4 separate regions of the Homo sapiens genome follow, and regions 1, 3 and 4 are each linked to region 2. Evidence: fine-mapped expression QTL. A gene starts in region 2. Each other region holds a variant in brackets. All regions are shown on one strand. Distances are from middle to middle.

Region 1 (7,870 bases), 320 kb before region 2:
TAAAACTTCATTTACAAAAAGAGGCAATAGGTTTGATTTGGCCTGATGGTCAAATGGAGTGAGTCCATGTGACATATGCAGGAAACTCACAAGGCTTTTAAGAATGGTATGTGCCCCAAAACACTGCCAGCTTGACCTGAAAGGGACAGAGAGAACAAAATGAAAGAAGGTTGTCAGATCACCAAAATTCTACAGACAGGAAACAGGTGGGTGAAACTACAGCTGCAAACAAGTATTACCCTTTATGAAGAAGGAAAGATGACTGTGAGAGCAGACCTTATAGGCTCTGAAGGCAGAGCTGAGAGCCATGCCTTGAAACCTAATGGAGTTTTTCTGGTTGGATTTAGAAAACATTTGGGACCAGGGACTCTTTTTTTTCTTTCCTTCTTCTCTCGTTTTGAATGGGAGTGCTGTTACCCTGGTGGAGTGTGTTTCATTTTGTATTTTGGGAGCAGATAATTTCTTTGCTAGCTTCATAGGTCCACAGATAGAGAGAAATTGTGCCACACACTGGACTATACCCAGAGCTTCACCCATGCCTATATTCGATGATTTATGTGATGAGAAATGAAACTTTTGACCTGATAAGACTTAGATGAGATTTTGGATTCAGGTTGATTGCTGTAATGGGTTGGGAGTTTTTAAGAATGGGTCAATGCAGTTGAGATAGACATAAAACTTTGGGAACAGACAGCATATTTTTGCAGGTTGAACAATGGCCTCCAGGCCAGCACGGTGGCTCACACCTGTAATCCCAACACTTTGGTAGGCTGAGGAAAGAGGATCACTCGAGCCCAGGAGTTCAAGACCAGCCTGGGCAATATAGTGAGATACTGTCTCTTTTTAAATTAAATAATAATAATAATAATGGCCCTCCAAAGATGTCCATATCCTAATCCCTGGAACCTGTGAATATATTACTTTCCACTGTAAAAGGAATTCTGCAGATGTGATTATGTTGAGGGTCTTGAGATGGGGAGGTTATCCTGGTGGGCCCAATGTAATCAGAAGAGTCCTTGTGAGAGATCAGCAGAAGCATCAGAATCAGAGAGAGAAGATGTAAGGATGGAAGCTGAGGTCAGAGAAAAGAGAAGATGCCACACTTCTGGCCTTGAAGCTGGAAGAAGGGACCACAAGCCAAGGAATGCCGGCAGTCTCTAGAAGTTGGACAAAGCAAGGAAGCAGATTTTCCCCTAGAGCCTCCAAAAGGAAGATAGGCTGACACCTTGATTTTAGCCCAGTATTTTTATTCCAGAACTATAGGATAATAAATTCACATTGTTTTAAGCCCACTGTGTTTGTCGTCTGCTGTGGGAAGTCAGGGACCCCAAATGGAGGGACCGGCTGAAGCTGTGGCAGAAGAACATAAATTGTGAAGATTTCACAGACATTTATCACTTCCCCAATCAATACTCTTATAATTTCCTATGCCTGTCTTTACTTTAATCTCTTAATCCCATCATCTTCGTAAACTGAAGATATATGTCACCTCAGGACCCTGTGATAATTGCATTAACTGCACAAATTGTTTGTAAAACATGTGTGTTTGAACAATATGAAATCTGGGCATCCTAAAAAAGAACAGGATAACAGTGATTTTCAGGGAACAAGGGAGATAACCATAAGATCTGACTGCCTGTGGGGCCAGGCAGAACAGAGTCATATTTCTCTTCTTGCAGAAGGCGAATAGGAGAAATATCGCGGAATTCTTTTCCCAGCAAGGAATAAACCTGGGAAAGGAATGTATTCCCAGGGGAAGGTCTGTAAAATGGCCGCTCTGGGAGTGTCTGTCTTATGCGGTTGAAGATAAGGGATGAAATACGCCCTGGTCTCCTGCAGTGCCCTCAGGCTTGCTAGGATTAGGAAATTCCAGCCTGGCAAATTCTAGTCAGACAAGTTGTCTGCTCTCTAACCTTGTTTCCTGTTAACATGTTTATCAATGACAATGTGTGCCCAGCAGGACATGGAACCTCATCAGTAATTCTGATTTCGCCCTGGCCTTGTGATCTTGCTCTGCCACTTGTCTTGTGATCTTTTATTGCCCTAGGAAGCATGTGATCTCTGTGACCCACTCCCTATTCGTACCCCCTCCCCTTTTGAAGTCCTTAATAAAAACTTGCAGTTTTGTGGCTCAAGGGGCATCATGGAACCTGCCGACATGTGATGTCACCCCCGGAGGCCCAGCTATAAAATTTCTCTCTTTTGTACTCTTTCTCTTTATTTCGCAGACTGGCCAACACTTAGGGGAAATAGAAAAGAACCTACATTGAAATATTGGGGCTGGTTCTTCCGATAGTGGTCATTTGTTATAGCAGCAAAAGAGACTAATACAGATTTTGCCATCCACTGATCTAAACATAAACTATGTGAGGGACTTTCATGCATTACCTTCTCCAGTCCTCACAACACCACTTTGAGGCAGGTATCAACAATATTCCCACTTGCAAGAGAGAAAATGCTGCTTGCAGAGATTGATTCAACAGTGTAGTTTATTGAACTTCAAAGCCCATGTTTCTGTCATATTGCTTGACTCAGGCAGACTTCCATTTTCCTTATTTCAGAGTGCCTCCACAACCCCCCTTAATGTTTACCAGTCCTGGGTCCCAATCTCTTGGAACTTTTTCCTCTGTTCCTATGCATGTGTTTTTCATTCACTCAGCCTACAGTTTCTGAGACCTACCAAGTACCAAGCCTTGGCTTAGGTTCCAAGATAGGTATATAAAAAAGATGCTTATTCCAGGCTGGATGGGGTGGCTCACACCTGTAATCCTAGCACTTTCAGAGGCTAAGGCAAGTAGATCACTTGAGCTCAAAAGTTCAAGACCAGCCTGGGCAACATGGCAAAATCTCATCTCTACACAAAATATAAAAACTAGCCAGGCATGGTGGTGCGTATCTGTAGTCCCAGCTACTCAGGAGGCTGAATTGGGAAGGATTGCCTGAGCCAGGGAGGTTGAGGTTGCAGTGAGCAGTGATCATGCCACTGCACTCCAATGTGGGTGACAGAGCAAGACCCTGTCTCATATATATATATATATATCCTCTCTCTCTCTCTCTCTCTATATATATATATATATATCCTCTCTCTCTATATATATATATCCTATATATATATATCCTATATATATATATATCCTATATATATATATCCTATATATATATATCCTATATATATATATCCTATATATATATATCCTATATATATATCCTATATATATATATCCTATATATATATATCCTATATATATATATCCTATATATATATCCTATATATATATCCTATATATATATCCTATATATATATCCTATATATATATCCTATATATATATCCTATATATATATATCCTATATATATATCCTAAATATATATATCCTATATATATATATATCCTATATATATATATCCTATATATATATATCCTAAATATATATATATCCTATATATATATATATCCTAAATATATATATATCCTATATATATATATATATCCTCTCTCTCTATATATATATATATATATATCCTATATATATATATAGCCTATCCTAGAAGAATCAACATCCCTCTCTCTGGTATTTGGGGATGGGACCTTTGGGAGATAATTAGATTTAGATGAGGTCATGAGCATAGAACCCTCATCACAAGATTCATGGCGTTACAAGGGGAGGAAGGGTGAGCTCTCTCTCTCTCTCTCTCTCTCTCTCTCTCTCTCTCTGCTGTCTGAAGACACAGCAAGAAGGTGTCTGTCTGCAAGCCAGAAAGAGAGCCCTCATCAGAAAAATGAATCAGTAGGCACCTTGATCCTGAATCTCCCAGCCTCCAGAAATGTGAGAAAGAATTGTCTGTTGTTTAAGCTATTTACTCTATGGTATTTTGTTATTGCAGCCTGCGAAGATGCAGACAATCTACAAAGCAAAAACAAAACCCTAAAAACAGCACTTGGGCTAGTAGCTGAAAGAGGCTTACACATTTGTAATAAGTGGGCTA[A/C]GCAGGAAGCAGGACAGCATGGATTGGTAGGCTGACTCTTAGATGGCCTCAAGGATCCTCACCTCCTGGTATGTCTGCCCCTGTGATCCCACTGTGTGATGGTGGGTTGGCCAAGCAACTTGCTTTTAACCAATAGAATATAGCAAAGGTGATAACGTGTCACTTCCATGATTATGTTACATAAAATTGCAATGTCCGTATTGCTAACAGTCTCTCTCCTTTGCTAGACTTGTTGAAGCAAGTTGCCATGTTGTGAGCTATCCTACAGTGAGGCTCAACTGGCAAGGAACTGAGGGTGACCTCCAGCTGACAGCAAGTAGGGACCTGAGGCTCTGTCTTACAACCTAAAAACAACTGGATTCTGCCAACAGCCATGTGAACTGGAAAGTAGCTCAGTTGAGCATTCAAATGAGACCTCAGTCCTGGCCAAAACCTTGGTTGTAGTTATTCAGAGGACCTCCTAAGTTGTGCCCAGATTCCTTACCTACAGATACAGTGAGAAAACAAATGTATGCTGTTTTAAGCTGCTAAGTTGTGATAATTTGTTATACAGCAATAAATAACTAATGCAAGTTGAGAGCATGGGTTTAGACTCATTGAACAAACATTGTGGGTTCAAATTTTGCCTTGACTGCTTACTCTTGTAATCTTGGGCATGCCACTCAGAGGCTTAGTTTTCTTATGTGCGAAATAAGACAATACCAGAGCCTACCACATAACAAGTATTCAATTATTGCTAGCTGTTATTATTTTTTAAGTGCTAAGGAATCACAGAAGAGGGAAATTTAATTTTCTCTGAAATCAGAGCAAAATAATTAAAACTAACACTTGTATTGGGCTCTCAGATTTACAAAGGCTCACATAGGAATTACTGATTTTAATCCTTACTGTGGTGTTTCCTGACTATGGGCAATTTTGTTTCCCAGGAAATATTTGGAGATGTTTTTGGTTGTCACAACCGGTAGAAGGTGCTACTGGCATCTAGTAGCTGGAGAATAGAGATGCTGATAAACATCTTGTAATGCACAGGGTAGTCTCCCTACACACATACACACACACACACACACACACACACACACACACACACACACACAGAATTATCTAACCAGAATGTTGATAGTGCTGAGGTTGAGAAACTGTGCCTTAGTAATCTTGTGAGAGAGGGTGTGCTTATCATGCATGACTCCTAGATGAGAAAACTGAAGCTAAGAAAGGTTGAATTACAGAATGTTGAGGTTGGGGGTCAAGTAGGTGGTATGTGGCAGGGCTGTAGAAGGCTTTGCCGCCAGGCCCCAAATGCATTGCTTTTTCTTCACCCCAACTTGACCTACTAAGCCTGTCTGGAGGCCCACTGATTTCAGCCCAGAGACAATGAACAGAATGTATCAGCCTACAGGAGTAATGGTGAAGGCTTAAGGCATTGGGCCAGGTCGGGACAGAATTTGTTCAGGAGCAGATAGATTCAATCCTACTTGGTAGAAGGGTGAGATTAGAGTGGAGGGGCCTATTCCATCAGAATCCAGAGACATTCTTGCCTATGTAAAAACTCTGTATTCTTATATAGAGATATCTTGATATTCTTTTTCAACTCTTGAGATTTCGAGCTAACAAAGACATTCATTCAACCAACATGTTTGATCATTGTTTCTGCTTAGACATCATTAAGACCTTCCACGGAGCTGGCATTTTACAGTTCCAATTGTTCCCCAATAGTAACCCATATAAACCTCTCAGTAGACAGTTGTGTTCCCATTTGACAGGTGAGGAAACTGAGCCTTGGAGAGGAATGCAATTGTATATCAAAGGGCACAAAGTTTTCAAAGGGCAGAGCTGGGTTCTAAACCCGGGCTTTTAACATCAAGTCCACATTAACTTCCACGCTAGCACTGAGCTCCCTATAACGGAGTTTGGGATATTTGCAGGAAGGGAGTGTAAAGCATTTCCTATTTTCAAGGAATTTGCTATTTAAAGGAGGAAACAATTGTAGTAGGTGAGTAAAATTAAAAGGAGAGTGAAAACACATACTTAAAATGGTTTCAAACAACACACTCCTGGGAGCACAGGGGAAAAAACAAAAAAATAGTTCTCAGGGGTGGGGCTGGGGGAAAAGGAGCTGGAAAGTCTTCAGGGAAGAGGTGACACTTGAGCTGTGCCTTAAATTGCAGGCAGAACAAAAAGCCAATGCCCCAAATCAAACAATAGATTCACTTGTTAAAAGTGATTACTGCCTCCAGATGCTGAAAGAAAAAAATTTCTAATTCCACTGTAACCAGTCCTCAGCGACAGAGCCTTAGGATTTCACGCATGTTCTTATTATTGCTCCTTTTTCTCCTTGCATGATTCGACAGCCAGGCAGCCTGCGTTCTATGCGCTTCTGATCAGGGCTGAAGATCTGCTGCATTTGGCTTGTCTTGTGATTTATTTTGCGGTGTGATTATACTAAGTTTATGAGACAAGAATCTTATCACCACTATCAGCACTTTTGCTTTTCCATTTTCGTTCATTTTTACAAAATAATAAGAGCAATGAGCTCCTAAAATAGTCAAATAATCACACAAACCAACACTCTACTGGGCAGACAACAACAGCAATGTGAAAAATGGAACCCTTAGCCAACAGACCACACACTCGGATGCCATCGTTTGAAGCACTGATTCAACTGTTGAAAAACAGAAACCCAATTTCTGCATGTGAAGGGTGATTCGGGCCTCTCAAGGCAGAAAGCATAACTGTACAGGTGACATAATATATTCATTTATTAATTCACTTAATAAATATCTACTAAAGACCTTTTCATTTCCAGACATTGTTTCAGGAAATGGGATATAGCCATGAAATTGACATATAAGGTCCCCATCCTCATGGAACCTCCAGACTAGATGGGGAGATGGACAAGAAGTAAGGTAAATTCAGGCTGGGTGCGGTGGCTTACGCCTATAATCCCAGCACTTTGGGAGGCCGAGACGGGTGGATCACTTGAAGCCAGGAGTTCGAGACCTGCATGGCCAACATGGTAAAACCCCTTCCTCTACCAAAAATACAAAATATTAGCCAAATCTCAGCTACTTGGTAGGCTGAGGCATGAGAATTGCTTGAACCCAGGAGGCAGAGGTTGCAGTGAGCCAAGATCATGCCACTGCACTCCACCCTGAGTGGCAGAGTGAGACTTTGTCTCAATAATAATAATAATAATAAGGTAAATTAAAATTGTGATAAATACTACGTAGGGTCACCAGATCAAATACAGCTGCAGTCCCCAAAGTTTTTGGCACCAGGGAGCAGTTTGGTGGAAGACAATTTTTCCACAGACCAAGGGTGAGGGCCCAGGGGGATGGTTTTGGGATCATTCAAGTGCATTACATTTACTGTGCACTTTATTTCTATTATGATTATATTGTACATTCTACAACTCACCATAATGCAGAATCAGTGGGAGCCCTAAGCTTGTTTTCCTGCAACTAGACAGTCCCAACTGAGGTGATGGGAGACAGTGACAGATCATCAGGCGTTAGATTCTCATAAGGAGCCAGCAACCTAGATCCCTCACATACGCAGTTCTCAATAGGGTTCGTGCTTCTATGAGAATCTAATGCCACTGCTGATCTGACAGGAGGTGGAGCTCAGGCGGTAAAGCAAGCGATGGGGAGTGGCTGTAAACACAGATGGAGCTTTGCTCACTCACCCGCTGTTCACCTCCTGCTGTGAGGCCCAGTTCCTTACTGGGAGTTGGGAACCCCTGAAATACAGGATGTCCAGTTAAATCTGAATTTCAGATAAACATCAAAATTTTTTTAGTGTATGTACATCCCAAGTATTGCATCCTAGCTGCAATATTGTATTTTTACTAGCTAACTCAGGCAACCTGAGCACTAAGAAAATAAATG
Region 2 (7,870 bases):
TGTTAGAATTTGAGAACCTCTGGCTTATGAATTCTCATATGACAAAATATCCCTTGAATTCAAGGCTATGTCAGGCCAACACGTCACCTCTGGTGCAGCTGAGCTGCTGCCCAAAGCTGGAGTGGCTCAGGAGTCAGCCATGATGGGCTGGTTCCTGTGCCATGCCAGGTGGGAAAATCACAGAGACTTGGTGATCTCTGTTTTGGGGGCTTTTTTGAGACAGGGTCTCGAGAGCTCTGTCATCCAGGCTACAGTGCCATGGCACAGTCATGGCTCACTGCAGCCTTGACCTCATGGGCTTAAGCCATCCTCTCACCTCAGCCTCCCCAGTAGCTGTGACCACAGGTGCACATTACCACACCCAGCTAATTTTTTGATTTTTTGTAGAGACATGGTCTCGCTATGTTGCTTAGGCTGGCCTCAAACTCCTGGTCTCAAGCAATTCTCCTGCCTCGGCCTCCCAAAGTTCTGGGGTTACAGGCATGAGCCATCGTAGACTGGTTCGACCTCTATTTGGAACTGAGATCACTTGGGCAGGTGGAGGGTTAGATGAGGAGAGAGGTACTTCTGGGCTCCTCTATCTTGGGGTTGGCTGAGGTTTCCGATCAGTGGCCCTTGGATGATTGAGGCCAACCTGGATTCATGATGTGGGGAGAAATAGGGTAACTGTCTCATATTTTCCAAGTGTGAGACTGTCTTCACAGACTGATTAACTTCCACAACAAAATAAAATCATGCAGCCTATTTACCAGAGATCAATTAAATTGGCCACACTCTTTTTATAACTTATTCCCATTGGACTGAACATTTAATAGTTTATATTATACTCAGCTAAATTTCAATATAATCTACCACCCCCACTTTTACCTAGTACTTTTATCAAAATGATCGCTTGTACTTGAGTTTGATATGTTTACTTAAAAGCTTTTTTATGTCATTTAACGAATAGTCATTGAAATGTTGTCATCCAAATAAAAAAACAGTTTTAAAGCCGTATATATGTCTACTGCTTCTTCCCTTTAAAGAAAAGTTTCGCAGATTTTATCTTGCATTTTAAATTAAGCCTCCACTTTTCTTGGATATGCTGATGGTCAAACTATGAAACCTGTAACTGAAGAACACGTGCTAAAAGGATCATAGAGCATGTTATCCTTACATAACATACTTAGAGGCATGTAACATACTTCGACGCATGTATTATTACAGCCTCAAACACCACCACCACCACAACAAAACAACCACTCCAGAATGAAAATACTGGTATATTTGTATAATGCAAAGAGAAATACAGATATAAATCCTCAAAACGGAAGGTACATTAATAAAAATGTAGCATTATAAGCCAAAAATATTATATAGTACTTGCAGAATTTAGTCTTTCAGTTTAACATTATAATGTCTAACAAAGAAATATTATTTAAATTATAGTTCTCATTATTAATTTAAAACAACCATCAGTAGAACAGCACAGCTTAACCTAGCAAACATTTTAAGGAAATGCTTTGTTTCCTAGAAGGAGGATATCATTATATTCCATTCATTTATACCATAAACAACAGAAGAACAATTTTCAAAGTGGAAATTAGTTTCATAAGACAGAATAAAACTGGGCTTCTCAAAGCACAAGCCATTTCCATAAAATTAATTTTTTATTGGCAAAAAATACTTAAAACAATTTTGATGTAGTACTCTGCTTCTCAGAGCCCTCCCAATCCTCGAACCACAATCTATACACACGAACACATGCAATACTGTATTTTTCTCCACATCATTACTAACCAAAACACTTTACTCTTTTAAAACTTACAACTTGACAGAAATGTTTCCATTCAAGATTGCTATAATACAGAGAGCAGTTGTCACTGACGTGGTTTTTAGCAGCAGAAAGTAAACCGGGAACCAAATCTTACTTGTTACTTACTGCTTTAAAAAAATGACTGCCTTGCTACTGATCTCCATCTCTGCTCTTTAAGTTCAATATCAACACTGAGACTTTCAAAGAACCAGCGCAGCACAAGGACCCTGCAGCCGGCAATTCAGAGGGCATTTCGGACAACTTCCCCCCACCCCCCACTTTCTCCTGCTTCCAACAGAAGATCCTCAAGAAATCTAACTTGTGAAGAAGTCCCCCTAGGTTCCTCTACTTCACTGCAAAATGTAATGCCACTTGAGGTTGTCAAAAATAGCTTCTGTAGAAAACTGGCCATGGTCTTTAGGAAACGTTGCATGAAGAAAATTAGTACAGCCTTTATAGAAAAAGAAAAAAAGGAACCACACATGGAATAAAAGACGTCAGTACCGCTACAAAAAGACTGCAGGGCCTATTGTCAGGAAGAAAGTCGAGTTAGGAGGACGAATGTGCGGAGCTGGAGTGGGCTGAGCATCCTACTCCTCACCCACCCCACCCCCAAAGGAGTCAGTACAATCCAAGTGTCTGTCCACTTCGAGTCATTTTGAAGGCAGCTTAGAAAATTAAACAGGGGCCAGAAGGAAAAGATACAACGTCACCGTCCGAGCCAAAGGGAAAGGCTGGGTTGGGGGTCTATGTGGCGGGGCCTCCCTCATAAACCAATGCCTTTCAGGTCGCAGGGATGGGTCGCCTGGGTGGTCCGGGGGCTCTGGCAGCAGGGGAACTGGGCCCTGAAGCAGTCCCTCAGCTCCCTGTTGAAGAGGAAGCACACGACGGGGTTGATGCCGGCCTGCGCGAAGGTCAGCCACACGGAGGCCGTCAGGTAGGCCTGGGGGACGGCGCCGGGCCGCACCAGGACCCGCAGGTAGCTGGCCACGACGTAGGGCCCCCAGAGGAGCAGGAAGAGCAGCGTGACGGCGTAGAACATCTTGCACAGCCTCTTCTCCGTCTTGAATTCTTCCAGCACGAGGAGGCGGCGCGCGCCGCGGCCCGGCCCTGCGGGCCGGATGCCCACAAGCGCGGGCGGCGTGGGCCCGCGGCCGAAGCCCGCCGTCCAGTTGGCGGCCGCCTGGCCGGTGGCGCCCGGGCCGTGGAAGGTCCAGTCGTGGCTGACGGCGGGCACCAGGCGCGCGGGCCGCATCTTGCGGCGGTCGTGGATGAAGAAGAGCAGGCGGAGGTAGACGAGGTGCGTGGCGCCCACCACCACGGCCAGCAGCAGCAGGAAGCCCAGCGCGCCGGGGGCGCCGTCGGGCCGCTGCTCCAGGGCGCACGGCGCGTCCTCGTCGTCGCCACCGCCGTCCAGCACTGGCGGGAAGGCCGCGGCCAGCGCCAGCGCCCAGGCGGCGCACACCAGCATGGCGGCGCACGGCCAGCCGGCCAGGCGCTCTGCATAGAAGCGGTGGTGCGCGATGGCCAGGTAGCGGGTGACGCCCACGCCCAGCAGCAGGAAGGCGGCGTGGAAGCAGAAGAGCGCGGCCAGGAAGGCGAGCAGCTTGCAGCCCAGCGCGCCCGGCGGCGCCCCCGCCGCGGCCGCCGCACGCCGCGCCGCCAGCATGACGGCCGGGAGGCAGGCGAGCGCGCGCAGCCCGTCGGCCAGGCACAGGTCGAGCAGCAGGTAGTACGGGGCGCGGTGCAGGCTGCGCTCCCGCACGATCAGCAGCGCGAACAGCACGTTGCCCGCTAGGCTCACGCACAGCAGCAGGCTGAGCGTGGCCAGCTTGAGGCCCAGGGCGGCCGCCTCGCCGCCGCCGCTGCCACCCGGCTCGCTCGCGTTCGCCATCGCGGCCTCACCAGGCCGTGCGCTCCGCCCCGGGGCCGTCCCCTGCCTCGCCGCTCCCGCAGGCCGCCCGGCCCGAGCTCCGCCGCTCCGCCGGCCCTGGGCGAGCTCCCCGTCCTGCGGGGCTCAGCCCGCTCCCGGCCGGCCCCTCCTGGGCTCCCCGAGCCGCCGCTGTGCCGCCGCCGCCATCTCAGGAATGGTGCGCGCAGGAGGAGGCGGCCACTCCCTGCGCCCTAGGCGCCGCGGGCTTCACTGCGGACAGGGCCTCGCCACCGTCCGCAGCCCCCCGCATCCTCCTCCGTCTCCTCCTACTCCTCCGCTGCTGCCGCCGCGCCTCTTGGCTCTGCCCCCCGCCGGGCCCGCCGCCGCCGCTGCCGCCGCTGCCGCCGCCGCCGCCGCCGCCGCGGAGCCCCCTCCCCTCCGCCGGAGCGCGCAGCGCGGCCGCCGCCGCCAGCCCCGCCGAGGCATCCCGCACCGCCTGGGCCCGGCTGGGCTGGGGGCGCCTCCGCAGCAGCCGCGGGGTCGGGAGGCGGCCGGGAGGGAGGCAGGGCCCAGGACGCAAGGTGGCGACAAGTCGCGTTTGGCCCCAGGTAACGGGGGTCCGGCGGCGGCGCCCGCGCTGGGGTCACGGTGGCCGTGCGCGGGGGAGGTTGCCTGGGCTGGCAGGGTCGGGAGGCCTCAGAGGGGACAGGAATATCTGGAATGAGCCTTCTGCCCGAAAGCTGGGAGTAATTTACGATAGTAATAGTCATCGTAATCCTAAAACCGCTGATACTCAGGTGCGCACTGATGTGGGTGGCAGTGTGCTGGGGAGCTTGGCAAGCATTATCTCCCTCAACAGTAATCACGAAGTTGTTGCCATCCTTAATCCCACTTTATACCTCAGGAAGCAGAGGCTTGGAGGTCAAGGGAGTTGAGAGCCGGGAAGTAGCGGAGCTGGGATTCAAATTTCGCTTGGTCTGATTTCCAGTGCTGGACTCACAGCGACTCCGCAGCATCCCCTGCTCGCTAACTCATCCGTGATCCCGGTGAAGGACCTATATCAGGGAAAAGAAATGCAGCATTTCATCTTTAAGTGACTTGGAAGGTGAACCCTATGCCACCTTCCTCCCAGGATATCTATTTTCTGGGTAAGCCTGAAAGGGCAGCCCCTGTTATGATTCTCAGACACACCGCATTTGTCTCGCAGGACCTTGCATGTGCTGGTACCTCTGCCTGGACCAGCCCCACAACAGGCTCCCTCTCCGTAGGGCCTCCTTCTAACCCGTCTGTTTTACTCTGTATCCCTGCCCTCTAGTCATTTCCTTCTTAGCACTTATAATTTGTCATTATATACTTTCATTTCTTTTTAAAAATCATGCTCTTCTAACTAGGCTCTAAGCTCTTTGAAGGCAAGGGATCATGCCTGGTTTTTGGTACCACTGCATCCCCAGTGCTTAGCATGGTAAAGCCAGAATTAAGCAACGCATTGTTTCTCACCCACACTCATTTGTTTTTTCTTCTGTGCAGAAAATTATTTGTTGCCTACTGATTACATGCAAGGCAGGCACCTTGATGGGCATTTTCAGGATAGTGCAAGATCATAGAGGGCCTTAATGATCAGGCTAAGAAGTCGAAACTTTAGTCTGCAGGCAGTCAGGAGCCCTTGAAATCTTTTGAGAAGGGGAGCGACATGACTAGGTGTGCTCCAGGAACATTATTCTGGCAGCAGTGTTGAGGAGGGATGACAGAGCAGAGCCGGTAAACCTAGTCCAGAGCCTCAAACTTCACTATGTGCAGAAATCACTGGGGACCCTGTTAAAATGAAGATTCTGATTTAGTAGTTCTGGAATGGGGCCGGAGGTTCTGCATTTCTAACAAGCTCCGGGGTGAGACTAATGCTGTTGGTCTGCTGACCTTACTTTGAATAGTAAGGCCCTTGGGGACAGTTTGGATATTTTTTTAAAAATCTAAGTGATTTTTCAAGAAAATCAACTATTGAGCACCTGACTTGGGACTCCTAAGTGGCCAGCAGCAAGTGGCTGACCAGGCACATCTGTAAATGTATGTTGATAGAAAATAGATTTTGGAGGGTGTATGGGTTAGGAATTGCAGTTTGATACTAGTAGCAAAAAACGTGTACATGAGTTTATTTTCCTCGTGAAAGAAGAAGTTTGGAGGTCAGTAGTTGCTGACATTGATTTATTGGCTCAAGGACTGAATCTCTGAAAATCTTTTAGCCCTTCCCTCATGATCACAGTAGGCTGCCGACGCCCCAGCCATCATTTCTTCATTCCAGGCAGAAAGAAGAAAAGGGAAAAGAGCAGCAATATTCCAGCCATCTAAGTAGGAAGAGCTTTCTAGAAGCCCTACATTATAAACAAACACTTAAACATATCATTGGCTATCAATTGAGAGTGAGCACTTGAGCAAGGGAGGGTAGGAAATGGTTTCTTATTTCTTTGTTTAAAGTTAGACCCATGGCTGTAGAGAATTCGATCCTGCCTTGCTGTGGCCCTTAGCGCTTGGGCTGCCTCTGCCCAGAGGAGGGAATGCCTTCTTAATAACCCACACAAATTCACCAACTCTGGTTGCTTTATGGTAATACTAATGGCAGCCACCTTTTACTGAGCACTTGCCGTATGCCAAGCATTGTGCTAAATTCTCGACATGTGTTATTTAATGTAATCATTGTAATGGCCAGATGTGGTATGTGCTGTTACTGTCTTCATTTTGCAGAGGAGGCAGAAGGGTTAATTTGTTCACGCTTTCACCACTTACACTTACTTTACACTTACTTTCAAGTAAGTGTAAGAGCTGGAAGTCTGACTTTATTTATTTTGAAACAGGGTCTCACTCTGTCACCTAGGCTGGAGTCAGTGGCATCATCATGGCTCACTGCAGCCTCAACCTCCCAGGCTCAGGCCGTCCTCCTATCTCAGCCTCCTGAGTAGCTGGGACCACAGGCTTATACCACCATGCCCCGCTAATTTTTAAAAAATTATTTGTAGAGGCCGGATGCGGTGGCTCACACCTGTAATCCCAGCACTTTGGGAGGCCGAGGCGGGTGGATCATGAGGTCAGGAGATCGAGACTATCCTGGCTAACACGGTGAAACCCCGTCTCTATTAAAATGCAAAAAATTAGCTGGGCATGGTGGCAGGCGCCTGTAGTCCCAGCTACTCAGGAGGCTGAGGCAGGAGAATGGCATGAACCCGGGAGGCGGAGCTTGCAGTGAGCCGAAATCGTGTCACTGCACTTCAGCCTGGGCAACAGAGCGAGACTCCGTCTCAAAAAAAAAAAAAAACCAATTATTTGTAGAGATGGGGTCTCCCTATGTTTCCCAGGCTGGTCTAGAACTCCTGGGCTCAAGTGATCCTCCCACCTCAGCCTCCCAAAGTGCTGGGATTACAGGCGTGAGCCACCACACCCAGCTGAGGAACTCTGTGTTTAGAGTCCATCCTCATGATCTCCACAAACACTGCCTCTTTGTTATAACTGTGAAGAAAGCTTTTGAGTTTATAAAAGCAGTAAACTAACATACACAAACTACTGATGCTCCCGGGCACAGAATTATAACCCCTTTCGAGAGGGAAGGATTTTTCAAAACCATCTAATCCTAACACTTGAATTTTACAAACAGAGAAGCTCATGAATAGCTGAGTGGGAGGGAGAACCCAGGTCCTCCCACTCCTAGGTCACTACCTTCCACTTTAAATCTTCATATTTTTTATTCTAATGAGCACATGGTGTTCGACAAGTCACTTAACCTCTTGGAATCTCAAATGTGTCCATTTATGAAATGGGACGTTGGACCAAATGATTTCTGAGGGTCCTGGGCTCTGAAGTTGAGTTTAGGTATAAGGAAATGGAAGTTAAGTGATTATGTCTCCCAAATGGGGAGAGATTTATTTTTCAGAAAAGGACACAAAAGAAGAGACATTATTAATTCCTTATAACTTAAAATTTTCTGTTTTCTGTTTCTATCTACGGTGCAAAATGCTGCTCTTGAGATTTGGTTTAGTCATTTTCCCAGGCTCAAATAGCAGAAGCAGCAGTAGAAAATACATAAATCATGGTTCTCTCACAGCATTTATATGCCTACTTCTTTCATTATCAACATTTGTTCAGTAGATTAATACTTAAGGAAAAACTGTTCACATTTCATTGGCCAGGATCAACGTATTTTCCTTTTACTGTTTCTA
Region 3 (7,870 bases), 97 kb before region 2:
AATCTTGCCTTTTGTTCAGACTGAAACTGAAAGTTATGTGAAAAGTGACCATTGTCACCAAAGGATCAAGGAACTTGGGCTGTAAGGGGCCAAGGATGGATACAGAGAAGAATTTAGACACAGCTTGATCTAGCCCCAGAGTCTGCAGAATGGGGGATTCCAGGCCTGGTACCAGATAAGGAGAGACTGTTAGGCAAGGGGGTCTTGCCACCTCTCAAATCACATCCTGTATCCACCCTGCTCACCCCACAACCTGGATTCTCTTTAGCTGTCTTCTTCAGCAGCTGTGAACTTTCAAAAGCAGGAGTTTTGTCTTTCAGCTCTGTTTCCCAGCTCTCAACCCAATGCCCAGCAGCCCATGGGCCCTCCTGGGTGCTGCTAGCTGTCTAGTCATTCAGTGATGGGGTACTTGCTCCCAAGGCAACCCCCATTGCTCTCCTGGGGCTGAAGCGTGATGGAGAAGGCCACTGTTCATTTCCAGCTAGCTTTCTGCTCTGTGCAGCTTTGGCAGAAGTGCCGACTCTTCAAAGGATGGGTGCATTGACATTTCACAACTCTGCATGCTTTCTGATGATTCCTGATAATGCTATCTGCCAAATAGCAGATATTGCTCTCCACGACTAAAAAATGAGATTGCTCAAATGTCCCTCTAGACATCATAGACAGTTTTCATATTCATTCATTTATTCGCGTATTCATCATTCAGCAAATATTTACTGAACACATATTAAGGCACATGCTAGGTTCATGGCTACCGAGGAGGGCAGTAGGAAATGGATCAGTAAAACATGAATGCTCTCTAAAAGCTGAGTTGAAGACACAAAAGCTACTCTTTCTAAGATACCCACTGTGTGCCAGGCATGTGCTAAATAATCTCCATATATTGTCTCCTTTATTCTTCACTATCACTATTGGATATTAGATGAGGCAGCTGAAGATCTGAATGTGAAAGCTTCTTGCTCAAGACCATACAGCTAGTGAGAAACAGAATGGGGATTCCATTCCCAATCTCTGAGATACCAGTGCCTAGTTCTTTCCTCTGTGCTGCACTGCCTCCAAAATAAGGATCAGATTGGAGGTAAGCAGTGACCTTGGACAAAATGCCACCGAAGATCAATAGGGACCAATTCCAGTCATGGGATTGCCGACCACTGCTGGAAGGTGGAAGCCATCCTCGTGGATCCTTCTAACACCTATCCCCTACAATAGATGAAAAGTGAAAATTCAGTTGATTCTAAGGTACTCATGAACCGTAACATGAGATTATTGAATGTTTGGAATCTACTTTCCATTTCTATAAGATGGCACATGCCCAACAGACACAGCCTTCAGCATTTTTCCATTTTACCATGCCTGGCACCAAGCATCTGACCTGCTGCGTTCCATATGGAACAGGATTCTGAGAGCAGACCAGGTGGTACGGTGGTGGGCCTCCCTCTTTGGAATTGGATGTTAGCACTGTCTGTCATTCTAGGGACTGAGAAGTCAACCTGGGAATGATAAGAAGCTAGGGAAAACTTTTCTCCTCCGTATGGGAGACCTTGATCTCTCGGCGGGTGGCTTAGCTGTATCCTTGGCTTGTGGAGGTCTCCTGGGAAGCAGGTAAGTCCCCGAGGATAAGCTCAGGACAGTAGGCTCTGGAAGTGGCAATTCCTGGAGCAGATGTGAGTTATCCTTTCCAACTCCCAAGTCTTCAATAAACTCATTAGAAGAGAAAAAGTAGAAACGGCAAGCATAAATGTTTAATCATCTAGGTTTATATCCTTTCACTGACTAGCTGTGTGCTGCTTCTCAGCTCATTTAACTTCTCTGAGCCTGTGATTTCTTATTTGTAAAATGGGGACAACAATAGTACCTAACTCATAGTATTATTTTAATTACTTTTCCAGACACAGGCTGGCTGTAAACTTAAGAGAATTATCCTAGACATTAAAAGCTATATAATCGTACTTAAAAAATAAATCTTTCCCCAGAGAAGTTCCAATTAGATGTTGATGGGACAGAGTATTTTCATTCTTTTTCTTTTTCCTTTTACTGTTTTTTTTTTCCATTGAAGGAAGTAGAAAAGCATTAGAGCTTATTAATGGAATGATTATTACAAAGGTGCCATAAAGAAATGGGGTTAAGGCCGGGCGCGGTGGCTCACGCCTGTAATGCCAGCACTTTGGGAGGCCGAGGCGGGCGGATCACGAGGTCAGGAGATCGAGACCATCCCGGCTAAAACGGTGAAACCCCGTCTCTACTAAAAATACAAAAAATTAGCCGGGCGTAGTGGCGGGCGCCTGTAGTCCCAGCTACTTGGGAGGCTGAGGCAGGAGAATGGCGTGAACCCGGGAGGCGGAGCTTGCAGTGAGCCGAGATCCCGCCACTGCACTCCAGCCTGGGCGACAGAGCGAGACTCCGTCTCAAAAAAAAAAAAAAAAAAAAAAAAGAAATGGGGTTAAAATGAATGTATAATGATAACACCACTTTGGTTAAACTTATTTATTACTGAACATATTTAAAAAGAAAAATGGATAGTAATTTAATTCCATTTGTAACACTTTCATGAAATTTCCATTAAATGGTGAAGAGTGCATATTTTGAAACATGCTGTTCTATTTGTCTAGGAGAAGAAATTTCATTGCTTTGGAAGCGAGAGGCTGCTGAATAGAATTTCCTCTCATAAATAAGGCATTGTCCTAGAAATCTGGTCTTCTTTATCCCACTATGTTCAGTTGTTCAGCTACTCTGCTAATTGTTGGAATTGGCAGTTTTCAAAGAAATCAACATGAAGAGCTCTGCAAAGTAAAATTGGGCATTTGGTTATAAAATCTGGTATAAAGCCATTACAGTGCACTATTGGGAAAATCAGCGCAGCTTCCAACTTCATGAGCCATTAACAAAGCGTAGACTCTAAACACACAGACATATCTCTTGACAAAGCATAATGTTATAGGTGATTTTCTGGCTGATTTCAATTAAGTGCCTATATTTTTAAATTATTTTAAAAATCACAAATAATTTTTAAGTGATTTGAGGCACTAAATGCTAAGGTTGAAATCTCAGCTTACTAGCTCTGTGACCAAAGTACTTAAGCTTCTTGAAGCTTCAGTTCCTTTTCAACTCTATAAAATGTGAATAAGAATACTTACCTCATGGCTTGAAGTGAGGATTTAGTGAAGTAATATGTAAAGTACCTAGCACACTTCTCAAAAATCTTTGGTATTATTTTCTTAGTTGTCATTATTATTGTAGTTGCAAATGATAGAAACGCAACTCAAATTGGTTTCAAAAATAACAATGATAACATATATTGGGGGCTTACTGTGTGCCACTTGCTGGGATAAACACTTCATCCTAATTATTTTAGTTAACCAAAAGGAATTTTTAAAATTACATAAGTGAAAAACCTAGGTTTGGTCTGGCTCCAGGGAATGCCAGACCCAGATGCTCAAATGAAGTCCTCAGCAGTTTATCTCTTTTCACCTTTCCATTCTCTTCTCTATGCTGGCTTCAGGCTCAGTCAGTCAGGGTCTCTCCATTAGCTATCAGCAATTCCAGGCTTTCATATGAATTCTATAATTCATATGGAACCACAAAAGACCACGGGAAGAATTAGGCTCCTCTAACCCAACAGTTCCAGCAAAAGGACCACATGGCTTTTGATTGAATAGTGCCTTTCTCTGACTAATAACCATGACCGGGAGGATGAACCATTCTGATGAACCTGGCCTGGGTCACTTGCCCACGCATTGAGGATTAAGTATAGGGATTGTAGCACTCGGTTTTCAATTGTTCTACTACAGTTTCTGAAAAGCACACAGAACATCATGAATAAGAAAAGACAAAACTCATGGACAACATCAACATCTTTAGCAAAACTAAGAGATTTTAGAAAACCTCAAACCCCAAGGTAGCAGAACTGGCATGAAATCAACCATGGTGCAACAGGAAGGAAAGCAGAATGCTGAAATTTCCTACAAACTGCAAATCTCCCA[A/G]TGACCAAACACAGGAGAGGGTTGCACCTTGAGTGAGAACTGCTGTGAGCTAATTTGAGAACAAAGAGCAAAATGAGGAGCCTGGGAAAGGAAGTCCTTATACCAAATTATATTTCTATAAATGGAATGGCCTGCAAGTCATGTCACCTCAGTAGAAATGAACACCACAGTACCTGGATTTTCTTCAATAGAAGAAAATCCTTCTTAAAGGACCTGGCACTCCTTAGAGAAATGGCGAGTCTGAAGCAAAGAAGATACTTGGTGAGCCGGAGGCGGCTTGTTCTACCAGAGAGCAAGTAAATTTCCAGGATTAGTAGATTTGTGTCAAAATAACTTAGAAGGCAGTATGAAGGGGCTTCTTCTGGTTACAGATGGGTCAACTGAGCATCAAAAAGAATAACGATTAAGAAGAACAAGAAATAAAAGGCATTTGAATTGGAAAGGAAGAAGTAAAATTGTCCCTGTTTGCAGATGACATGAAGTTATATATAGAAAACCCTAAAGACTCCATTAGAAAATCCTTTAGAACTATTAATAATAAATAAATTCAGTAAAGTAGCAGGACACAAAACCAACATATCAAAATCAGTTGCATATCTATACACTAACAATGAGCTACCTGAAAAGGAAATTAGGAAAATAATCGTACTAACAATAGCACCAAAAAAGTAAAATACTGGAATAAACTTAACTAAGGGGGTGAAAGACTTGAATGCTGAAAACTACAAAACATTGATGAAAGAAGTTAAACAAGACACAAACAAATGGAAAGACATCCATGTTCATCATTTAGAAGACTTAATATAAAAGTCCCCCTTTATCCATGGGGGATACATTCCAAGGCCTCTGGTGGATGCCTCATACCACAGATAGTACTGAAACCTAAATATACTATGTTTTTTAATCTCATAACTGAGATGACTGCTAAGTGATTAATGGGTGGGTGGCATATATAAGATGGATATGCTGGACAAAGGGATGATTCATGTCTCAGGTAGGACAGAGCAACATAACATGAGATTTCATCACACTGCTCAGAATGGCACAAAATTGAAAACTAATGAATTATTTCTGTAATTTTTCATTGAATATTTTCAGAATGTGGTTGACTGTGGATAACTGAAACCATAGGAAGCAAACCTGCAGACAATTGTTGGGGGAACTACTGTATTGTTAAAATGTTCATACTTTCCAAAGTGATCTACAAATTCAATACAATATCAAAATCCTAATGACATATTTTACAAAAACAGAATTCTATAATTCATATGGAACCATAAAAGACCACAGGAAGGAATATTCAAAATCAATCTTGGGAAAGAAGACCAAAGCTGGAAGCATAATACTTCCCAATTTCAGAATATATTGCAAAGCTACAGTAATGAAAACAGTATAGTATATATGTCTATACTGGCATAAAGACAGACATATGGACCAATAGAGCAAATAGCCCAGAAATAAATCCGTGCATAATACATGGTCAACTGGTCTTCAATAAGGGTATCAAGATATACAATGGGGAAAGGACAGTCTCTAATAAATGATGGGAAACTGGCTATCCATCTGCTAAAGAATGAAATTGGATCCTTATACCATATACAATGGTTATTCATAATAGCCAAGATATGGAAAAAACTAAATGTTCATGAGAAAATTAATAGTGAAATGTGGTATATCCACACAGTGGAATATTATTCAAAGTTAAAAAAGAAGAAATTTCTACTATATGTGACAACATAGCTGAACTTTATGAGAATATTATGCTAAGTAAAGCAGTCACAGAAAGCAACATATTGCATGATTCCACATATTTGAAGTACCTAAAGCAGTCAAATTTATGGAATCACACAGTGGCTCATGCCTGTAATCCCAGCTATCCAGGAGTCTGAGCCAGGAAGATCGCTTGAGCCCAGAAGTTCAAGACCAGCCTGGGCAACACAATGAGACTCCCATCTCAAAAAACTAAAATTTAAAAAAGCGGAATGGTGGTTGACAGGAGCTGGAGCTCTGGGACAGAGGCAACAACAGGCATAAAGTTCCAGTCAAGCAAGATGAATAAGCTCTAGAGATCTACTGTGTAACATGGTGCCCCCAGTCAACAATAATGTATTGAACACTTACAAATTTGTGGGTTTTTTTACAAATTTTTAATTTGTAAATGAGAAATCTCATGTTGTTTTCTTACCACAATAAAATTTAATAAAATAATGATTATAGATAAAATGTATTTAATAAATGAAATGTGTGACTTCATAAAGATACTAAAAAAAGAGAAAGCCTGAAAAGACATTATACGAGATGGCCATTAAACCACTCCTTACTTTTTAGTTGGTCATTAAAGGAAAAAAATTAAACATTTTGCCTTTTCCAGTAGGAACTATATGACAGGATAGCCAACTAGCCCACCTGTTGAAGAGAATCTCTACTTTACAAAAGAACACCAGTTAATGAACGTAGAAGAAACGATAAAGGTTGAAAACCTGATCTTGCAAAACCTAATGAAATTATTGATTTAGGCAAGATTTATATATTAAGTGAGTGGGATACAGAACAAGACATAGGACCAAAGTAACATTATATAAATTCCTTTCTGATCATGTGTCAGTTATTTATTGCTGAGTAACAAATCATTCAAAGAATCTAGTGGCTAAAAACAATAATCATTTCTTATTCTTTATTACTCTGTGGGTCAGCTGGTTGGTTCTTCTGTCTGGGCCAAATTTATTGGTCTCTACGGACAGCTGGTGGCCCAGCTGGGGCTGATGGATCCCAGATGACCTCACTCAAATGTCTGGCAGTTAGCAGAGATGGCTGGATGGCTGAGGCCTCCCTTCACATGGTCTGTTGAGATGATCTAGGATGGCTTGACTCACATCTCTGGGAACTCATCTGGACTAGCTGGGGCCATGCTCCATGTGGTGTCTCATCCTCCAGTAGGCTGGCCTGAGCTCCTTCACGTGGTGGTCTCGAGGTTTCAATAGCAAAAGAGGGAAAGCCCTGGTACACAAGCATTTTCCGAGCCTCTGATTGCATGATGTTTATTAGTATCCTATTGGCTGAACAAAGTTGCATAGTGATGCCCAGATTCAAGAGATGGAGAAATGGACTCATTCTCTAGTTAGTATGTCTAGTAGAATTTTCTTCAATGAAAGAAATATTTCATATCTGCCCTGTCTAAGTGGTAGCCACTAGCCACATGGGGCTATTGAGCACTTGAAATGTGGCTAATACAACTGAGGAACTGAATTTTTCATTTTAATTTATTTAAGCTTAAATTTAAATGGGTACATGTGGCTGGTAGCTACCACACTGAGTAGTGTAGTTCTAGATACAGAATCCCTTATGGTATATTCTAGCCAAAAATGCTTGTCTTGAATCCATCAGTCCTTTAGATCTAACCTATCATTTGCAGGAGATGGAGGGGTACAGGAATCAGCTACATGGCACAGTAAGGAAGCAATCAGACAAATCTAGAAGGTGAGATATTCCACAGGAAAACCAGTCCAGTGTCCTCAACAAGCCAATGTCATCAAAAAGGAAATCAGGATAGACTGGGTAGAAATAAGGACTATATCAGCCAGATTTGATTCTTGAGAGGATTTCTGGAGAGGACAAGCCAGTTATAAAGGTCTTTTTAGCTTAATTGGTGAAATTTGAATATGGTTTAGCTATTCAATGACATAAAAATATACTGAGTGGGCCAGACACAGTGGCTCGGCTGAGGTGGACAGATCACTTGAGCCCAGGAATTCAAGACCAGCCTGGGCAACATAGTGATGCCCTGTCTCTACAAAAAATACAACAACAACAACAACAACAAAATTAGCCCAGTGTGACAGTAGTTGTAGTCCTAGTTACCCAAGACACTGAGGTGGGAGGATCACCTGAGC
Region 4 (7,870 bases), 70 kb before region 2:
ATAAAAATAAGTTATAGTCATTCCTACAATGAAATACTCCAGAGAAGTTAAAATGAATGAAATGAATCTAATGTGTCAATATAGATCCACCTCAGAAACATGATAAGGTATATAAAATCAAATTGCAGGAAGATATGTGGAATTTGATATCATTTACCCAGATGCTAAAAATCCCCAAACAAAGTTTATATATTATTCCCTGTAATTTTGTCTATGTTTAATTTTTTCATAATAAAGTTCAAAAATACATCGTATATTGCTTCATCTTACACAAATATGTAATAAAACACGAAAACATAAATTAGAAGAATATCTGCTTCAATGCACCTTTGAAGAAGGAGGGAGAAGAGTACAAAAGAAGCTTCCACTGAATCAATGCTTTGTTTCTTTGGGAAAAAATTTCACATGAAACAAATATGACAAAATTTTGCTTTGAGTTGGGGTTTCACTATATTGCCCAGGCTGGAGTGCGGTGCCTATTCACAGATGCTATCCTGCTGCTGATCAGCATGAGAGTTTTTAACTGCTTGGTTTCTGAGCTGGGCCGGTTTACCCCTCCTTAGGTAACCTGCTGTTGCCTGCTTTCAAGAGGTCACCATACGGATGTCAAACTTAGTGTGGACACCCAATTGACATAACACACTACAGCCCAGAATTCCTGGGTTCAAGCAATCCTGCTTCAGCCTCTCGAGTAGCTAGGACTACAGGTATGTGCCACCACACCCAGCTAGCAAAATGTTCAGAGTTAATTAGGTCTAGGAGGGAGGTAGATTCTTGTATGTTAGAATTTTTTTGAAAAGAAAGAATATTAGAAAAAAAGTCAAACATTAAACACTTACAAAAAGATACAAATTGACAATCAACTGCTCAATTAATTAATTAATGAGGGACTGTTTGCCCCAACATCCTTTGGCTGCCACTAGAGAGGAGATGGCATTCTGTCTGCAAGCACAAAGACTAGGGGAAGAAAGGTAAAGATAGGAAAGTCCTCCAATCATTTTTGATACACTGCAAGGTAGAGTTGTGTTGTAGCAATGTAATGTAACGGAAAAAGGTATGTGAATTTCTACACTGCAGATTTTATGAATGCCAAGAGGTCTTAATTTTTTTTTCCTTCACCATCACACCTAAAGGAGCTCATTCAACAGAACCAGGATTCCATGCCAGACACTTCCTGGAAAACTGATAATCCACTGGCCTCAGTGGTCTGAGTATCTGAAAGCAGCAGGTTAGTGGGGTTTTACAAAGTTCTTTCTGAGCAGGAGACAATTTTTATGTTAAGGAAGGTAATTTAGGATTTATAGGTACTAATCTGTATGGTCAACATACATCCCTTTCTGAGAGCAACTGATTCGCTTATTTTATAATTTCTTTTTTAAAATTATTATACTTTAAGTACTGGGATACATGTGCAGAACACACAGGTTTGTTACATAGGTATACATGTGCCATGGTGGTTTGCTGCACCCATCAACCCGTCATCTAGGTTTTAAGCCCCTATTTTATGATAATTTCTATATAACCTGCTGGTCTGGACCTGAGACAGCTGGAGCTAACATTCTGTTCTCTGACAACACACATATGTTGCGGGAGGCTGAGAACAAGTACTGGGCACAGTCAGGATGGGAGAGAGGGTGGTCTTCCTGCTGCTGAAAGGTCTGAATACTGGGAGAATGTATTCCAGAGTTGAAGAAAGGCCAGCAGAGTGGTTGCCTTTGGGGTTAATTTTGCCCTCCCTCCTCCATTAACTAGACAGAGAAAGGGGAACTACATTTAGGATACTCATTTCTGTTGCACCCACCCATCCACCCACCTATCTAACAGGGCAAGGTAGGGAGAGGCCTACAGTAGAGAAAGAGAAAGACTCATGGCCTTTTGTCAGCCTGCAAAGATTGCTCAGGAGAGTGGAACTGAGTGCTTTGGGGCAGTTTCTCTTTACTTTTCTGCCCAGGGAAGAGACAGAGTAAAGGACTCCTACCACTCCTAGAAGTGAGCGGCCGCAGGAAATGTGCAATGGCATAGCCATGGCCATGCAGATAAGTTGGCAGCAGAAAAGCACAGAGTTGCTTTTTGGGTTGACCATGACAATAGCCCAGCTACAGGGACCTTGTATTCCTTGGTGTTACATGACCTGAGGCCTGGCCTCAGAAACAGGCCCAGGAAGCAAAGAATGCAGCAATGGCAGAGAGCACGAGTGCGAGGGAGGGGGACTGTCCATGTCAGCCAGAGCTCATGGAAGGGGAGACTCCGATTCCAGAGTCTGAAGGGAGACATGGCCTGGTTCTCCATTGACCCTTGTAGATTAGGCTCCTGCTGCTGGTCATGGAGAAACTCCCACTTCCTGTTCATGATTGAGTTGATGATATGATAGGATGGGAGCAGTGGACATTGACCTGTAACCGACTTTGACGTTTCCCTCACTGCTTGAATTCCTGCTTCACATACATCTGTGTTGCTCTCTGTTGTGCCTTAGTCACATCTGTCGCGTCTGAGAGAGCATGCAGGTACTGTCCCCCACACAGCACCCAAAGTAGTCTTTTTAAAATGTAAGTCAGAGCATGTCACCCCTGGCTCCAAACCTCCTATGGCATCTCATTTCATCTGGAGCAAAATGCAAAGTCTCCACAATGACCTTCAAGGTTCTGTGCACTATGGGACCCCACCACCACCCACAATGTCCCGCGACCCCAGCTTCCTCTACTGTCCCCTGCATCTCTGCTGGGTCACCCAGGGACACTCCTGCATGAAGTGTTCTTCCCCTGATATCTGGGCTTCTATGCTTTCTCCAAGTCTCAGCTTCACAGTTACCTTTTCTTCACTGACCACAACGACTGTCTATAAAATTGCAAACCCTCACCCCCAGCCCCCATGCCACACACACCTATCTCCTTCCCAGCTTGACTTTTTTTTCCCATCACCTATACTGCCACCTGACATTCGGCATGCTTCACTTGTTTAATATCTGTCTGTCCTCCCCCACTCTCCTAGATTGTAAGTCCCGTAATGTAGGAACGTCTGTCTGTTCTGGTCATTCCTGGTATGTCCAGGAAGTATAACCTGACATGTAGAAAATGTTCAATAAAGATTTATTGAGTCGATGGAGTAACAGAAAGATTTACAGCAACTCAGAAGATGGAACAAAATATTATTTTATCTCTTAAATCACCTCCTAATGGGCATTTGGGAGTTCTTCCTCTTCTGTGGGCTCCTTTTTCTTCCTACTCTCGCCATCTGCCCACCCACCTGTTTTTCTCCACCCCCTCCCTCCCTCCAGGGTTCCTGCTCTGTCTTGGGTGAAGGGATTCCATCTTCCAGGCCTCACCCAATTCTTCAGAGCAAAGCCTCCCCAAAGCAAACAGATTTTTATCTCACCAGCACTGACCACCTCTTGAGGTTTAACATAAATGTGTGGTTATGTGTTAGCCTCCTGTTTCCATACTCCATTGCATCAAAGACCACTTTCCAGAAAGAAATAATGGGGGAAAAGACACATTTGAAGAAGGAAGGAAGGTTTATCTGGCGACATCTTTATAGTACACAGAGAGGCAGCTGTACTAGATAGCAAAGTGGTTGACTGTCTTGGATCTCATAAGCAAAGTGTCACTAGAATGGGTACTTCTTTTTAGAGAGAGTCCCAATCTGTCGCCCAGGCTGGAGTGCAGTGGCATGATCTTGGCTCACCTCAAGCTCCACCTCCCAGGTTCTAGCAATTCTCCTGTTTCAGCCTCCTGAGTAGCTGAGACTACAGGTGTGCACCACCACACCCTGCTGATTTCTTTTTTCTTTTTCTTTTTTTTTTTTTTTAAGTAGAGACAGGCTTTCACTAGGCTGGCCAGGGTGGTCTTGAACTCTTGACCTCAAGTGATCCACCCACCTAGGCTTCCCAAAGTGCTGGGATTACAGGCATGAGCCACCGTGCCCAGCCTAGAATAGGTACCTTATAATGTGTTTAATAGCTTTAATAACATTGAGATCTAGCACATACGACATACCTACACATATTTATGTTTCTGAAACAGAATATTCATGAAGCAACAACTATCATATTTTGGAGTGTTGTACTCTGACATTTTCCATTCTATTCTATTTCACTTAAGAAATGTCAGTCTTGATATTTCAGCTCATTTCATAACCCGGTGGGTCATAGCCCTCAGCATACCCTCTGACCTAAATGCCCTTGAACTATAATATCATGTGCACTTTTGCAGCCTGTCAGGTAAATGTGAAATAATGAGTCATTGCACGTTGACCCTTTCCTGCTTCATGAACACAAGTGTGGTTTGAAGAAGCAATAAGATGTAAGTATGGATGTATTTTTCAGAACTTTAATTTCTTGGAGAGAAATGGTATACCACATATTATTAGATAATATTAGTAGAATAATTTAAAATG[G/A]CTATGGTACCAGGTAAAATATTAAATATATTAAATATTTATATATCCCTTCACCATATGGGCAGTTTCCAGAGCTCGCTCTTGCTTGTGACCGTGTTACTGGATGACTTTCACACTGAGTGAATTTACTGAGTGCACTCTATCTCTCTCCCCCGTACACACACTTATCCTCTCATGCACACACACACACTCACTCACATGCACATGCTTCGTCTACTCTGGCTTTCAGAAGTCAGGCGCTGCCTTGGAGTATTACCTGACACGACTCTTTGTAAACTAAATACCGATCACTGAAATAGTGAATTATCCACTGAAAAAGTGGTTTTAACTGCTGAAAAAAATGTTCCAGAGCTGAAGAGCATACAGCAAGTGTACAAATATTATTTGAGATTGTGAAAGCAGAGAAAAGCAGGTAGCTTTCCAAAGCTGCAGCTTGGCTAGAGTGGGGTTTTTATGGAGGGCCCTTCTGATCCTCAAACCATCACTTTATTTTAATCTGCTGGCTCCAACCATCCATGTATCAATGTGTGAAGGAAGTAGGACAGATGTGATTCTCACAATGCAAATGCGGAAACTGAGCCCCAGAGGTATTCAACTGGGTGAAATGTCCCTGTTTCCCATTTCTAATTGCAGGAAAGAATCTAGCCCCAGCGCTGTAGGCCTGATGACATTGATTACATCATTGTTTGTAGCGTGCCCAGGGACTGGAAAGAACATGGGGTCAATCAGGAGGGAAATGTTGAACAAATGTTATATACCCATAGTATGAAATACTATGCCACTATTTAAAATAATGGCTTAGATCTAAACTCAGAAAAGCAAGTTAGAGAAAAATATGTATAAATCAATTCAATTTTTTACTTAAAAAAGGAAAGATTATATTTAGGTAAAATTACTTGCAGGGCTTCATGGAAGATTAATGAAAGGTAGATATATACTAAATCATTAGTATTACCTACTTGAAGAGAAATAGGCTATAGGGATGGTCAAGGGAGATGGAAGAGTGAATAATCAGCTTCTTTGTTGTATAATTTCATTTGTTTCAAAAAGCAATGTTTTTGCAGTTTTAAAAATCTGACAAAGACAACGTAAAACAATAAAATAAGATTCTTTCTTCTAGTTCTATTTTAAGTGAAGTAACCTCCCAAGATTACCTTAATTGAAAGGGGCAGCATTAGTGCTTGTTTTTGACCCCAAAACCATGGCCTTTCCTTAGAGCTACAGCTGCCTTTCCTGTATCAAGTCTTCATAAAACTTTGCACCCTTGAAACTAGCATTGGGTGAACACACACGGAAAAGAACAGAATAATGTCACGTAAGAAAACACAGCCCAAATTATTATTGTTGTTAGCACAGTGTTTAATGCAAATTTAAGCATGTGAATCAGGTATCACAATAGCTGTTGAAGAAATGTAATGCTGACAGTATTTGGCAATAAAATAATAATCACTGTGTATATCTCTGATGAAATGAGATTTACTACATTTGAGCTCCTAATTGTCTGCCACACTACATTAGAGATGGATACTACTATTGTCTCCACTGCTCAGAAATATGAAATTCAAAGCAATATGCACGGTGTCTTGAAATAAGCTAGCTTAATGAACCAGCAAATTAGACCTTTCTATCTCTTTATTTACCAACCAGTTCCATGAATGTATCAGAGTTCATTACAAGAGGGCAAAATTTAAAGAAATGCTGCTAAATTCATTTATGATTAGAACTAATGACTTTGAAAAGACTTCTCATATTTTTAGAGAAAGCCATAATTTATTATTGAATTTATATGGCCTTGGGTAATAAACGTTCAATCTTTTCTCACTTACGTCTGTTATTTATAGTTTGGATTTTGTAAAACAGCCCCACACAAAAAAATTCCCATAAAGAAATCGACTTTCCCCCCGCTAAACTCGGGAAAGGCATTCAGAAAATACAATGGCAAAACTTTCTTCTTGATTTGTGTCAGTGGTTCTCAGTGGGGGTGAGGAGGATTTTGGCAATGTCTGGAGACATTTTTGGTTGTCACAGCTAGCAGGAGAGGGAAGGACAGTGCTATTTGTATCTGGTGGGTAGAGGCCAAGGATGCTGCTAAACATCCTGCAACGCACAGAACAGGCACCCACAACAAACAATTATTCAGCCAAAATGTCAATAGTGCTGAGACTGAGAAGCCCTGAACTGTGTGTATGTGTCTCATTTAAAGAATGCTCCATTTCATTCAATGTTTTCTAAAATGAGATCACTCTCCATCCTGTCACGTAGGCTTAGAGCGAGACCAAGTAAAGGAATGGATCTGGCTCAGATGATATTTTTCCCCTAATAGTTACAGGAATAAAGACTTCAGCATCTGCAATAAAGATGATAAAGTATGGTGATAATATAGATGACTTAAGTTTGTTCAATCATTTACATTATCTTCCAGGAGATACCTTTCCTATTTGAAAGCAAAAGCATCTGATTACCTAATAGCTTTCAGTATGTTAGCATATTGGTTGAACATATTTAAAAGAAATCTGTTCGAGACTCCAATTTAGATGAGAGGAGTCAGTAGCCAGCAGATCTATGGCCAGAGTCAAGAATGAAGGCAAACAATGGGAAGATCAAAAGGTCTGATTCAGGCTGGGCGTGGTGACACACACTTAATCCCAGCATTTTGGGAGGCCGAGGTAGGAGGATTGCTTGAGGTCAGGAGCTTCGGACTAGCCTGGGCAAAATACTAAGACCTTGTCTTTCCAAAAAAAAAAAAAAGTTTAAATTTTTATTTTGGATTGGGATAAATGTGCAGGTTTGTTACAAGGGTATATTGCTACAAGGGTATATATGCGTGATGCTGAGATTTGGGCTTCAATTGGTCCCATTACCCCGCATAGTACCCAGTAGGAAGTTTTTCAGCCCTTGTCCCCTCACTCCCTGCTCCCTCCCCCCTTTTGGAGTCTCCAGCGTCCACTGTTCCCATTTTTATGTCTATGCGTACTCAAGGATTAGCTCCCACTTATAAGTGAGAAGATGCAATATTCGGTTTTCTGTTTCTGCATTAATTCACTTAAGATAATGACCTCCAGCTGCATCCGTGTTGCTGCAAAGGATGTGATTTTGTACTTTTCTATGACTATGTAGTACTCCATTAGTGTATATGTACTACATTTTTAAAATTCAATCCACCATTGATGGACAGCTAGATTCATTCCATATATTTGCTATTGTGAATATCGCTGCAACAAACATACAAGTACAGGTGTCTCTGGTAGAACAATTTGTTTTCCTTTGGGTATATACCCAGTAATGGGATTGCTGGGTCGAATGGTAGTTCTCTTTTTAGTTCTTTGAGAAATCTCCAAACTACTTTTCACAGTGGCTGAACTAATTAGAATTTTCTTTAAAAATAGCCTGGCCTGGTAGCATGTGCCTATAGCCCCAGCTCTTCATGAGGCCCAGCTCAAGCCTAAGAGTTCAAGCTTACAGTGAGCTATGATCTTAC

Which allele goes with the higher level. Alleles are on the strand shown, and positions count from the first base shown. SD is a standard deviation of normalised expression in the study named. Not every link is listed here.
With allele G in place of A in region 4, the expression in subcutaneous fat of the gene that starts at base 3,884 in region 2 is higher (moderate effect, 0.46 SD a copy in FUSION).

Evidence for each region. PIP is the estimated chance that this variant, and not a neighbour inherited with it, causes the effect.
Region 1: its variant is the best candidate, but not a certain one, in a credible set for the expression of GPR27 in substantia nigra (GTEx, PIP 0.81).
Region 3: its variant is the best candidate, but not a certain one, in a credible set for the expression of GPR27 in whole blood (TOPMed, PIP 0.85).
Region 4: its variant is the best candidate, but not a certain one, in a credible set for the expression of GPR27 in subcutaneous fat (FUSION, PIP 0.69).

Annotation. Positions count from the first base shown.
Region 1 is chr3:72,069,991-72,077,860 of GRCh38, reverse strand. The region is part of intron 2 of LINC00877 (long intergenic non-protein coding RNA 877); the gene reads left to right. Among named protein-coding and RNA genes, the nearest start is that of LINC00877, 27 kb to the left of the region's middle. The variant A/C (reference allele first, on the strand shown) is at 3,987.
Region 2 is chr3:71,749,869-71,757,738 of GRCh38, reverse strand. GPR27 (G protein-coupled receptor 27) reads right to left here and starts at 3,884. Exons shown (of 1, transcript NM_018971.3): 1 at 1,243-3,884. The coding sequence starts at 3,689. The coding sequence ends at 2,562. It also overlaps a transcript of EIF4E3 not described here.
Region 3 is chr3:71,846,933-71,854,802 of GRCh38, reverse strand. No RefSeq gene overlaps it. Among named protein-coding and RNA genes, the nearest start is that of PROK2, 66 kb to the right of the region's middle. The variant A/G (reference allele first, on the strand shown) is at 3,981.
Region 4 is chr3:71,820,035-71,827,904 of GRCh38, reverse strand. It overlaps the pseudogene RN7SL271P. Among named protein-coding and RNA genes, the nearest start is that of PROK2, 39 kb to the right of the region's middle. The variant G/A (reference allele first, on the strand shown) is at 4,393.